Regions from separate parts of the Homo sapiens genome. Here region 2 is linked to region 1. Evidence: fine-mapped expression QTL. A gene starts in region 1. The other region holds a variant in brackets. All regions are shown on one strand. Distances are between the middles of the regions. Region 1 holds the start of GPR37 (G protein-coupled receptor 37). Region 2 has its middle 33 kb from the start of GPR37.

Region 1 (5,215 bases):
GGGTCTTATTTACTGTCTCCAGCTTTGGTCCGTCTAAGTAGGTACTGTTTTCTGTTTACTTATCCCCCAGCTTTAGGCCTGGAACAATGTTGAACATAGTGTCACAGGCCCTGGTGCCAGACAGGATCAGGGGCTGCGGAATATTTACAGTTTCCCTTCTTCTGCTTCCATAAATGAAATGGACAGTCTGAATGGAGAAAATCAAGGGCCAGCTGGCTAAAAACACAACTGGCAGCAAAACAGTTGGGCCCCTTCCAAGAGCTGGTGTTTAAAGAGAGGCCATTTAAAGAGCAAAGTCCACCTACCACAATAGTGGGCCAGGACACTAGCTGTAGGATGAAACAATGCAATTTCACTCAAAATGATTTTTGTTTCCAAAGTTTGGAAACTAGATGTGCCCCCTTCTTCCCAAGAAATTTTCTAGTCTTAGGGTCAATCCCTTAAAATAGCCAATCTTTCCACCCATAACAAATAACAAATGTATAACTTTGAGAATGTTAAACAAATTATGTGCCACGCTGGCCAAAGTCTTATTTTTGCTTAAGTTCACGCAAACACACAAAAATAAAATTAAGAAACCGAGATGGGAAAAGACAGGAACAAAAAATGACTTAAGAATTTAGATGGGATAGCATGGAAGACAGTCAGACACTTAAACTAATTTGAGAGGTTATTAATATATCATGAGGCCAACTGACAAACACAATTTTCTTTCTTTCTTTCTTTCAATAAAATGTTACTCCAACTTTGCTGTTTAAGAAAAAATGCAATAATCTTCTTGGGGGAAAACTCACATTGAAGCACTTGGTAACTAGTACACAAATGCTAATGTTTTTTTTTTTTTCCTTGTAGGCTCTGATGATGACAACCTTAGGCTGGCCATTTACTTAACCCTAAAATCTCTGACAAGTGCCAAATCAGAAATACGCATAACACCATATTCAGGGAGATAGATTTATACTCCAAACAATTCTGTATATTGTGAGATCATCCTTTTTTTACAGCCCAGGAGCAGATGAATTTGAAGGTGATTTCGCGAAGCTGCCTCTTTTTGTATATACATACATGCATAAATGATTGGAAAGAGAAATGAAAGAGGGCCCCAGATAAAAAGGAAAGGCGTTCAGCTAGATAGGTGCATCCAGCAGCAGTTCTCTGATGCTATAATCCCGAAAACAGATAAAGCCACTAGCTTGAGAGCCCCTGGAAGGCATTACCTCTATATAGGGCACGATCTTGCAGGAGAAGTCCTCCAGCAGCCACTTCTTGGTCAGCTCGTGGAAGATGACCAGCGGAAGGCAGAAGAAGATGATGAGAAAGTCCCAGAAGGCCAGGTTGGCCAAGAGGGAGTTGGAGATGCTCCGCATGTAGTAGTTGTGGCACACGATGCACATCACCGCCAGGTTGCCAATGATGCCGGTCCCGAAGATCACCACGGACAGACACATGACCGCGTAGGCTCCATAGGACTCCTGGGTCAGCGGGTAGAAGGGGTTCTTCAGTCTCACACGCCGGTTCGTGCTGTTTCCCCGGCGGGGACCCCCAGGCTCATGGATTCCTTCACCCAAGGATCCATTCTGGGCCAGCGCCCGGCCCGGGAGTGCAATTGTCCACCCTTCGTGCCCCGCCAGTCCATTGGCCGTCTTGGACAGGGGCTTGTGGTGGGAACCCTGGAGTTTCCCGGCTCTCCTTGGCCAGTAAAAAAGATCGCTGGCTCCGGGGACTGTCTTCACACTCTGCTCCTGGCTACGCCCGGAAATGCCAGCGCCTCTGGGACCCTTCTCTTCCTCCTCTGAGATCTGAAGGAAGAGCTGGAGGGCCGTGGGGTTCCCTCTCCCCAAAGTTTCAGAAGGCTCCTGACCCCGAGCACCTTTCCACCTCCAGGGGCCAGGTGGCCTGGTTGGAGGTCCCGGGGGTCCGGCTGCCGACGCCTCCGCCCCTCTGCCTGCAGCCGGGTCACGGCCCGGGGCCGCCGGCAGGTCCCAGGAGGGTCCCGCAAGAAACGCTGCCCCCTGCTCCTCCCTGGGTGCTCGGGCTCGCAGAACGTCTCTTGCAGAATTTCCCGGTCCCCAGGCGTCCCTGCCGCGGCGCTGGATCACTGTAGGTGCACAGCTCTCCCCCAGACAAGTTTCGTTTCTGGACGCAGGGGCGACCCCGAGGGCAGAAGAGGCAGACACCTTGAGCAGTAGCAGAAGCAGTAGCCGCGACATGCGGGCGAGAAGCGCGCCCGGGGCTCGCATGGCTTGGTGAGGGCACACCCGGCAGCCGCAGCTCCTGCTTAGTTAGGATCGACACCTGCTGCCGAAGTTGCTGCTGAGAGTTAGGCACATGTCACATACTCACCCCCGCCCGGGTAGCGGGGAACCGGAGATTAGGGTGATAGCGGAAGATCGGTCTTGGGGGTCACACACACGCCCCCTATAATCCTTCCTCCTTTGGCATCTTGTGCATTTCTCAGCCAAGTTGAGTCCCAGCAAGGTATGCCCTCCAAGGTTCCTAGAGGGAATAGGCTACTCCCGGTGGCTGACCTTGAAAAGTTGCAATCAACACCTGACTGTTGATTACTGTTGAGACTCGGGGGAGCCCAGACGAAGCCCCACACTCCTCACTGCCTTTGGGTGGGGGTGGTGGCCTTCTTGGTAACAGTTGCTCTGCCTATTTACATCCTTTCGACAGCGTTTGATCCAGTTGCAAGCCGAGGTCTCTAGAGGAAAAGAAAAACAAGTCCCCCTCCCCCAGACGACTCGCAGTCACAACCCCGCTCCCAGCTCGCTGGAAACACGTTGCAAACAGTCCGAAGCAGCGCTGATGCGCCGGCGAAACTCTTGCCCCACCTAACCCCAGCGACTTGCGAGCCTACTGCTGCCGAGGAGAAGCGGGATTCCAACCCCGCGGCCACTGCCAAAGTTGCTTCTCCTCCAGCTCAAAGTTGACGACGGGGCGAAGCAGGCTGCTGGACGGCGTGCCGCCGCAGAGAAGGAAATCGTGGGGAGAAGGGGGAGAAGAGGGCGCCGCTCGTCGGTGGACAGTGCCGCTAGCCGCGGGAGCTAGTCACTGCCACAGCGGGCTCAGCCCGGACGGGAAGGGTGGTGCCTGGAACCGCCGCGGGCCAGGCAGTGCGCGGCCGGGAAGGGGAGGTGGCCCGGCCTCGCCCCCGCGCTCCAGCCGCTGCGCGCGCCCGCGAAGCTCGACTCTCGGCTCGTTGCCTCCTCCCACTCCTTCGCCTCCTCCTCGGAGAGATACTGGTTTGTGGGGAGACGGGATCCCCTGGTGGTTCACCACTCACTAAACCCACACACGTTTCATTCAAGCCATTTGTAGCGGCTTCCACTCGGAGGAGCTGGGAGGGAACAAGGGCGGAGGCGCGGAGCCTGCGCGGCTCGAGGCTAGGGATGGGCGGGACAGGTTAATTCCCCAGCTGTCGAAACCAGCCTGACAGGTCCCCGAGCCCGGGCTAGGGGCGGGTGCGGGGCGGGAGTGGGGGGTGGGGGTGGGAACGGGAATATGAGAGCGGTCGGGGGAGGGAAGAGAGGAGGGTAGCAGGGGAGTGAGCAGCAGGGTCCCCTCCAATCTGTTGCGGCTGATGCGCATGCCCAGGTCTCAGCTCTGGGGGGCGAGGGGCGGGGCGGGGGAGGGGCGGACGGGGGTTGGGCCGCGGGGAGTAAGAAGGTGAAACCTCACCTCCTCAGGTATTCCCTAGAGATAGGAGAGAATGGGAGCTCAGAGGTGTCAGTCATAGAGAATTACCAGTTCCAGGATTGAGATGCAGAGCGAGAAAGCTCAGGATGCACCATTACCTTTAACACTGAGTTGGGAAGCATCCTACCATGGGTTACTTCGTACCACCCAGAGCATAGTGAGGTAGTTGTATTTGATGAAGTAGTGGGAAATGACTGGAGGCAGAAAATTACTCGAACAGCACTCCCAGCACGGCTGTCCATGCCTTTCCAACCTTTCTACTATATCCCACAACCCTGTCAAAACTGTCAGGGCATAGCTAATAAAATAGACAAATTAATGAAGAGAAAATGATAGAGGAAGAAATAAACACATTCTGAATTTTTTTTTTAAACAGAGTCTTGCTGTGTCGCCCAGGCTGGAGTGCAGTGGTGCGATCTCGACTCACTGCAACCTCCGCCTCCCCGGGTTCAAGCGATTCTCCTGCCTCAGCCTCCCAAGTAGCTGAGACTACAGGCACCCGCCACCATGCCCGGCTAATTTTTTTTGTATTTTTAGCAGAGACGGGGTTTCACTATGTTGGCCAGGCTGGTCTTGAGCTCCTGACCTCGTGATCCGCCCGCCTCGGCCTCCCAAAGCGCTGGCATTACAGGCGTGAGCCATCACACCCGGCCTGAATTTTTTTAAAGCAACACATCTAGAGAGGCAGGAGAAAACACAATGGAACATATGATACCAATTGTGGTAAATAGAATAATGCCCCCCCAAAAAAATGTCCGAATCCTAATTCCTAATACCTGTGAGTATGTTACCTTACAGAGCAAAAGGGATTTTGCCAATGCAATTCAGCTAAGACTCTTGAGATGGGGAGAGTATCGTGATTATCCAGGTGGGTACACTATAATCACAAGAGCCCTTACAAATGAGAGGCAGGAGGGTCAGAGTAAAAACAAACACAAGCCAAGTGATGTGGGCAATCTCTGGAAGCTAGAATGGGCATAAAAAAGGATCTACTAGCCCATTTGAGACTTCTGACCTCCATAACTGTAAGATAATGAATGTGTGTTGTTTTAAGCCACAAAATTTATGGTTATTTGTTGCAGTAGCAATAGTAAACTAATACACCATTAAATCTAAAAATGGAGACAACAGGAATAATTGTATAGAAAAACATAAACTACCAAAAATAGTTCAAGAAGAAAATTTTCAGAAACTGTAATCGAACTATAACATTAAAGAAATCAAATCATTCATCAAGATCTACCCAGAGGAAAGTGCTAGACCTTAGCATATCCTGCGGAATAAATATACATTTATACAAAATGTTTTAAAGCTACTCAGTTCATTTTGTGAAGGCAGAATAACCTTAATGTCAAAATCAGACAAAGCCAGAAATAGGAAAAAATATAAGCTAATAGCACACATTCATTTGTACATTAATTCATTCATTTATATACACTAACTCATTCTCTCAAATTCACTACTTCATTAAAGAAATATTCTGCTCAAGTTACTTAGGTCAGAGCAGTGAATAAAA
Region 2 (5,215 bases), 33 kb before region 1:
ACCCCAATCCCTTATTTCCACACCCCAACCTCATATCTCTGTGCCCCGACCCCTTTCCTGCTTTTCTGGAGGGTAAGGACCCCTGAACCCCTTGCCTCCATGTCTCTACTCTCTCTTTTCTCTGGGCTTGCCTCCTTCACTATGGGCAAACTTCCACCCTCCATTCCTCCTTCTTCTCCCTTAGCCTGTGTTCTTAAGAACTTAAAACCTCTTCAACTCTCACCTGACCTAAAATCTAAGCATCTTATTTTCTTCTGAAATGCCGCTTGACCCCAATACAAACTCAACAGTAGTTCCAAATAGCCAGAAAATGGCACTTTCAATTTTCCATCCTACAAGATCTAAATAATTCTTGTCATAAAATGGGCAAATGGTCTGAGTTGCCTGATGTCCAGGCATTCTTTTACACATCAGTCCCTCTCTAGTCTCTGTTTCCAATGTGACTCCTCCCAAATCCTCCTTCTTCCCTCCCGCCTGTCCCCTCAGTCCCAACCCCAAGCATCTCTGAGTCTTTCCAGTCTTACTTTTCTACAGACCCATCTGACCTTTCCCCTCCTCCTCAGGCTGCTCATCACCAGGCCGAGCTAAGTCCCAATTCTTCCTCAGCCTCTGCTCCTCCACCCTATAATCTTTTTATCACATCCCCTCCTCACACCTGGTCCGGTTTACAGTTTCATTCCGTGAGTAGCCCTCCCCCACCTGCCCAGCAATTTCCTCTTAAAAATGTGGCTGAAGCTAAAGGCATAGTCAAGGTTAATGCTCCTTTTTCTTTATCTGACCTCTCCCAAATCAGTTAGCATTTAGACTCTTTTTCATCAAATATAAAAAACCCAGCCCAGTTCATGGCTCCTTCGGCAGCAACTCTGAGACGCTTTACAGCCCTAGACCCTAAAAGGTCAAAAGGCCGTCTTATTCTCAATATACATTTTATTACCCAATCTGCTCCCAACATTAAATAAAACTCCAAAAATTAAATTCCGGCCCTCAAACCCCACAACAGGATTTAATTAACCTCGCCTTCAAGGTGTAAAATAATAGAAAAAAGTTGCAATTCCTTGCCTCCACTGTGAGACAAACCCAGCCACAACTCCAGCACACAAGAACTTCCAAATGCCTGAACCGCAGCGGCCAGGCGTTCCTCCAGAACCTCCTCCCCCAGGAGCTTGCTACAAGTGCCAGAAATCTGGCCACCAGGCCAAGGAATGCCTGCAGCCCAGGATTCCTCCTAAGCCGCGTCCCATCTGTGCGGGACCCCACTGGAAATCGGACTTTTCAACTCACCTGGCAGCCACTCCCAGAGCCCCTGGAATTCTGGCCCAAGGCTCTCTGACTCCTTCCCAGATCTTGGCTTAGCGGCTGAAGACTGACGCTGCCCGATCACCTCGGAAGCCCCCTAGACCATCACAGACGCCGAGCTTCGGGTAACTCTCACAGTGGAGGGTAAGTCTGTCCCCTTCTTAATCAATACCGAGGCTACTCACTCCACATTACCTTCTTTTCAAGGGCCTGTTTCCCTTGCCTCCATAACTGTTGTGGGTATTGACAGCCAGGCTTCTAAACCTCTTAAAACTCCCCAACTCTGGTGCCAATTTAGACAGTACTCTTTTAAGCACTCCTTTTAGTTATCCCCACCTGCCCAGTTCCTTACTAGGACGAGACACTTAAACTAAATTATCTGCTTCCCTGACTGTTCCTGGATTACAGCTACATCTCATTGCTGCCCTTCTTCCCAATCCAAAGCCTCCTTTGTGTCCTCCTCTTGTATTCCCCCACCTTAACCCACAAGTATAAGATACCTCTACTCCCTCCTTGGCGACCAATCATGCACCCCTTACCATCTCATTAAAACCTAATCAGCTTTACCCCGCTCAATGCCAATATTCCATCCCACAGCATGCTTTGAAAGGATTAAAGCCTGTTATCACTCGCCTGCTACAGCATGGCCTTTTAAAGCCTATAAACTCTCCTTACAATTCCCCCATTTTACCTGTCCAAAAACCAGACAAGTCTTACAGATTAGTTCAGGATCTGCGCCCTATCAACCAAATTGTTTTGCCTATCCATCCTGTGGTGCCCAACCCGTACACTCTTTTGTCCTCAATACCTTCCTCCACAACTCACTATTCCGTTCTCCATCTTAAAGATGCTTTTTTCACTATTCCCCTGCACCCCTCGTCCCAGCCTCTCTTTGCTTTCACTTAGACTGACCTGACACCCATTAGGCTCAGCAAATTACCTGGGCTGTACTGCCGCAAGGCTTCACAGACAGCCCCCATTACTTCAGTCAAGCCCAAATTTCATCCTCATCTGTTACCTATCTCGGCATAATTCTCATAAAAACACACGTGCTTTCCCTGCTGATCATGTCCGATTAATCTCCCAAACCTCAATCCCTTACAAAACAACAACTCCTTTCCTTCCTAGGCATGGTTAGTGCGGTCAGAATTCTTACACAAGAGCCAGGACA[G/A]CACCCTGTAGCCTTTCTGTGCAAACAACTTGACCTTACTGTTTTAGCCTAGCCCTCATGTCTGCAAGCAGCGGCTGCTGCTGCTTTAATACTTTTAGAGGCCCTAAAAATCACAAACTATGCTCAACTCACTCCCTACATTTCTCATAACTTCCAAAATCTATTCTCTTCCTCTTACCTGACGCATATACTTTCTGATCCCCGGCTCCTTCAGCTGTACTCACTCTTTGTTAAGTCCCACAATTACCATTGTTCCTGGCCCAGACTTCAATCCAGCCTCCCACATTATTCCTGATATCACACCTGACCCCCATGACTGTCTCTCTGATCCACCTGACATTCACCCCATTTCCCCATATTTCCTTCTTTCCTGTTCCTAACCCTGATCATGCTTGATTTATTGATGGCGGTTCCACTAGGCCTAATCGCCACACACCAGCAAAGGCAGGCTATGCTATAGTACAAGCCACTAGCCCGCCTCTTAGAACCTCTCATTTCCTTTCCATCGTGGAAATCTATCCTCAAGGAAATAACTTCTCAGTGTTCCATCTGCTATTCTACTACTCCTCAGGGATTATTCAGGCCCCCTCCCTTCCCTACACATCAAGCTCGAGGATTTGCCCCCACCCAGGACTGGCAAATTAGCTTTACTCAACATGCCCTGAGTCAGATAAGTAAAATACCTCTTAGTCTAGGTAGACACTTTCACTGGATAGGTAGAGTCCTTTCCTACAGGGTCTGAGAAGGCCACCGCAGTCATTTCTTCCCTTCTGTGAGACATAATTCCTCAGTTTAGCCTTCCCACCTCTATACAGTCTGATAACAGACCAGCCTTTATTAGTCAAATCAGCCAAGCAGTGTTTCAGGCTCTTAGTATTCAGTGAAACCCTTATATCCCTTACGGTCCTCCATCTTCAAGAAAAGTAGAATGGACTAAAGGTCTTTTAAAAACACACCTCACCAAGCTCAGCCACCAACTTAAAAAGGACTGGACAATACTTTTACCACTTTCCCTTCTCAGAAGTCAGACCTGTCCTCAGAATGCTACAAGGTACAGCCCATTTAAGCTCCTGTATAGATGCTCCTTTTTATTAGGCCCCAGTCTCATTCCAGACACCAGACCAACTTAGACTGTGCCCCAAAAAAATTGTCATCCCTACTATCTTCTGTCTAGTCATACTCCTATTCACCATTCTCAACTACTCATACATGCCCTGCTCTTATTTACATTGCCAGTTTACACTGTTTCTCCAAGCCATCACAGCTGATATCTCCTGGTGCTATCCCCAAACTGCCACTCTTAACTCTTAAAGTAAATAAATAATCTTTGCTGGCAGGACTATGCTGAATCTCCTTAGGCACTCTCTAATCAGATGTCCTGAGTCGTCCCAATTCTTAGACCTTTTATACCTGTTTTTCTCCTTCTGTTATTCCATTTAGTTTTTCAATTCATACAAAACTGTATCCAGGCCATCACCAATAATTCTACACGACAAATGTTTCTTCTAACAACCCCACAATATCACCCCTTACCACAAAATCTTCCTTCAGCTTAATCTCTCCCACTCTAGGTTCCCACGCTGCCCCTAATCCCGCTCGAAGCAGCCCTGAGAAACATTGCCCATTATCTCTCCATACCACCCCCAAAAATTTTCACAGTCCCAACACTTCACCACTATTTCATTTTATTTTTCTTATTAATATAAGAAGACAGGAAAGTCAGGCCTCTGAGCCAAAGCTAAGCCATCATATCCCCTGTGACCTGCACGTACACATCCAGATGGCCAGTTCCTGCCTTAACTGATGACATTCCACCACAAAAGAAGTGAAAATGGCCTGTTCCTGCCTTAACTGATGACATTGTCTTGTGAAATTCCTTCTCCTGGCTCATCCTGGCTCAAAAGCTCCCCCACTGAGCACCTTGTGACTCCCACTCCTGCCTGCCAGAGAACAACTCCCCTTTGACTGTAATTTTCCTTTACCTACCCAAATCTTATAAAATGGCCCCACCCCATCTCTCTTTGCTGACTCTCTTTTCGGACTCAGCCCGCCTGCACCCAGGTGAAATAAACAGCCATGTTGCTCACACAAACCTGTTTGGTGGTCTCTTCACATGGACGTGCATGAAAATACATAATAATAAAATTATTAATAATAAAATGTAGTAATAATGGCTAATACTCATTAGTGCTTATTCTATGAAGACACAATTTCGTGTATGCATTAATTCACTTAAATTCAATATTAATGGGTCCCCAGTACTATCAAACATGAGAGGATATCCATATAATTATAAAATAGTCACATGGTGTTAGAAGTTCTAAGGAATTATGAAAGGCTAGAATGAATAAAGGATAGACTGGGGTTTTTTGTTGTTTTTTTTTGTTTGTTTTTTTAGAACATATAGGGCAATGTTTCTCTAAGTCAAGTCAAGTCCCTAACAGAACAACCTGGGTGCTTAGTCCACCATAGACTTAATCAAAATTTCATCCAATGGCTCAGATTTAACCTTGAGAAGAGTTAGTCCTTCAAGCAGATAAATCATGGTCCCAGGATTTTTCACAAGAATCAGGGAATTTCTTGAGTGTTAAGCACTCACTAAATGTGAAAGAAATACCACTGTATGGAAAAGGTCTGCAAGATTTAGAGGTAAAAGATTAGAATATGATTACCTCCATATCAGTAACTTAGACACGGAGATTACCATTATCATTAATATGATGCTCAAGACTTTCTAATCCCATTAAA

What was found. PIP is the estimated chance that this variant, and not a neighbour inherited with it, causes the effect. A credible set is the group of variants that fine-mapping cannot tell apart.
Region 2: its variant is the best candidate, but not a certain one, in a credible set for the expression of GPR37 in lung (TOPMed, PIP 0.56).

The regions. Positions count from the first base shown.
Region 1 is chr7:124,762,737-124,767,951 of GRCh38, forward strand. It overlaps GPR37 (G protein-coupled receptor 37), which reads right to left and starts at 3,056. Exons shown (of 2, transcript NM_005302.5): 1 at 1,218-3,056. The coding sequence starts at 2,240. RefSeq lists a silencer at 3,068-3,197.
Region 2 is chr7:124,730,141-124,735,355 of GRCh38, forward strand. No RefSeq gene overlaps it. Among named protein-coding and RNA genes, the nearest start is that of GPR37, 33 kb to the right of the region's middle. RefSeq lists enhancers at 1,231-1,731, 1,885-2,386, 4,029-4,565. The variant G/A (reference allele first, on the strand shown) is at 2,468.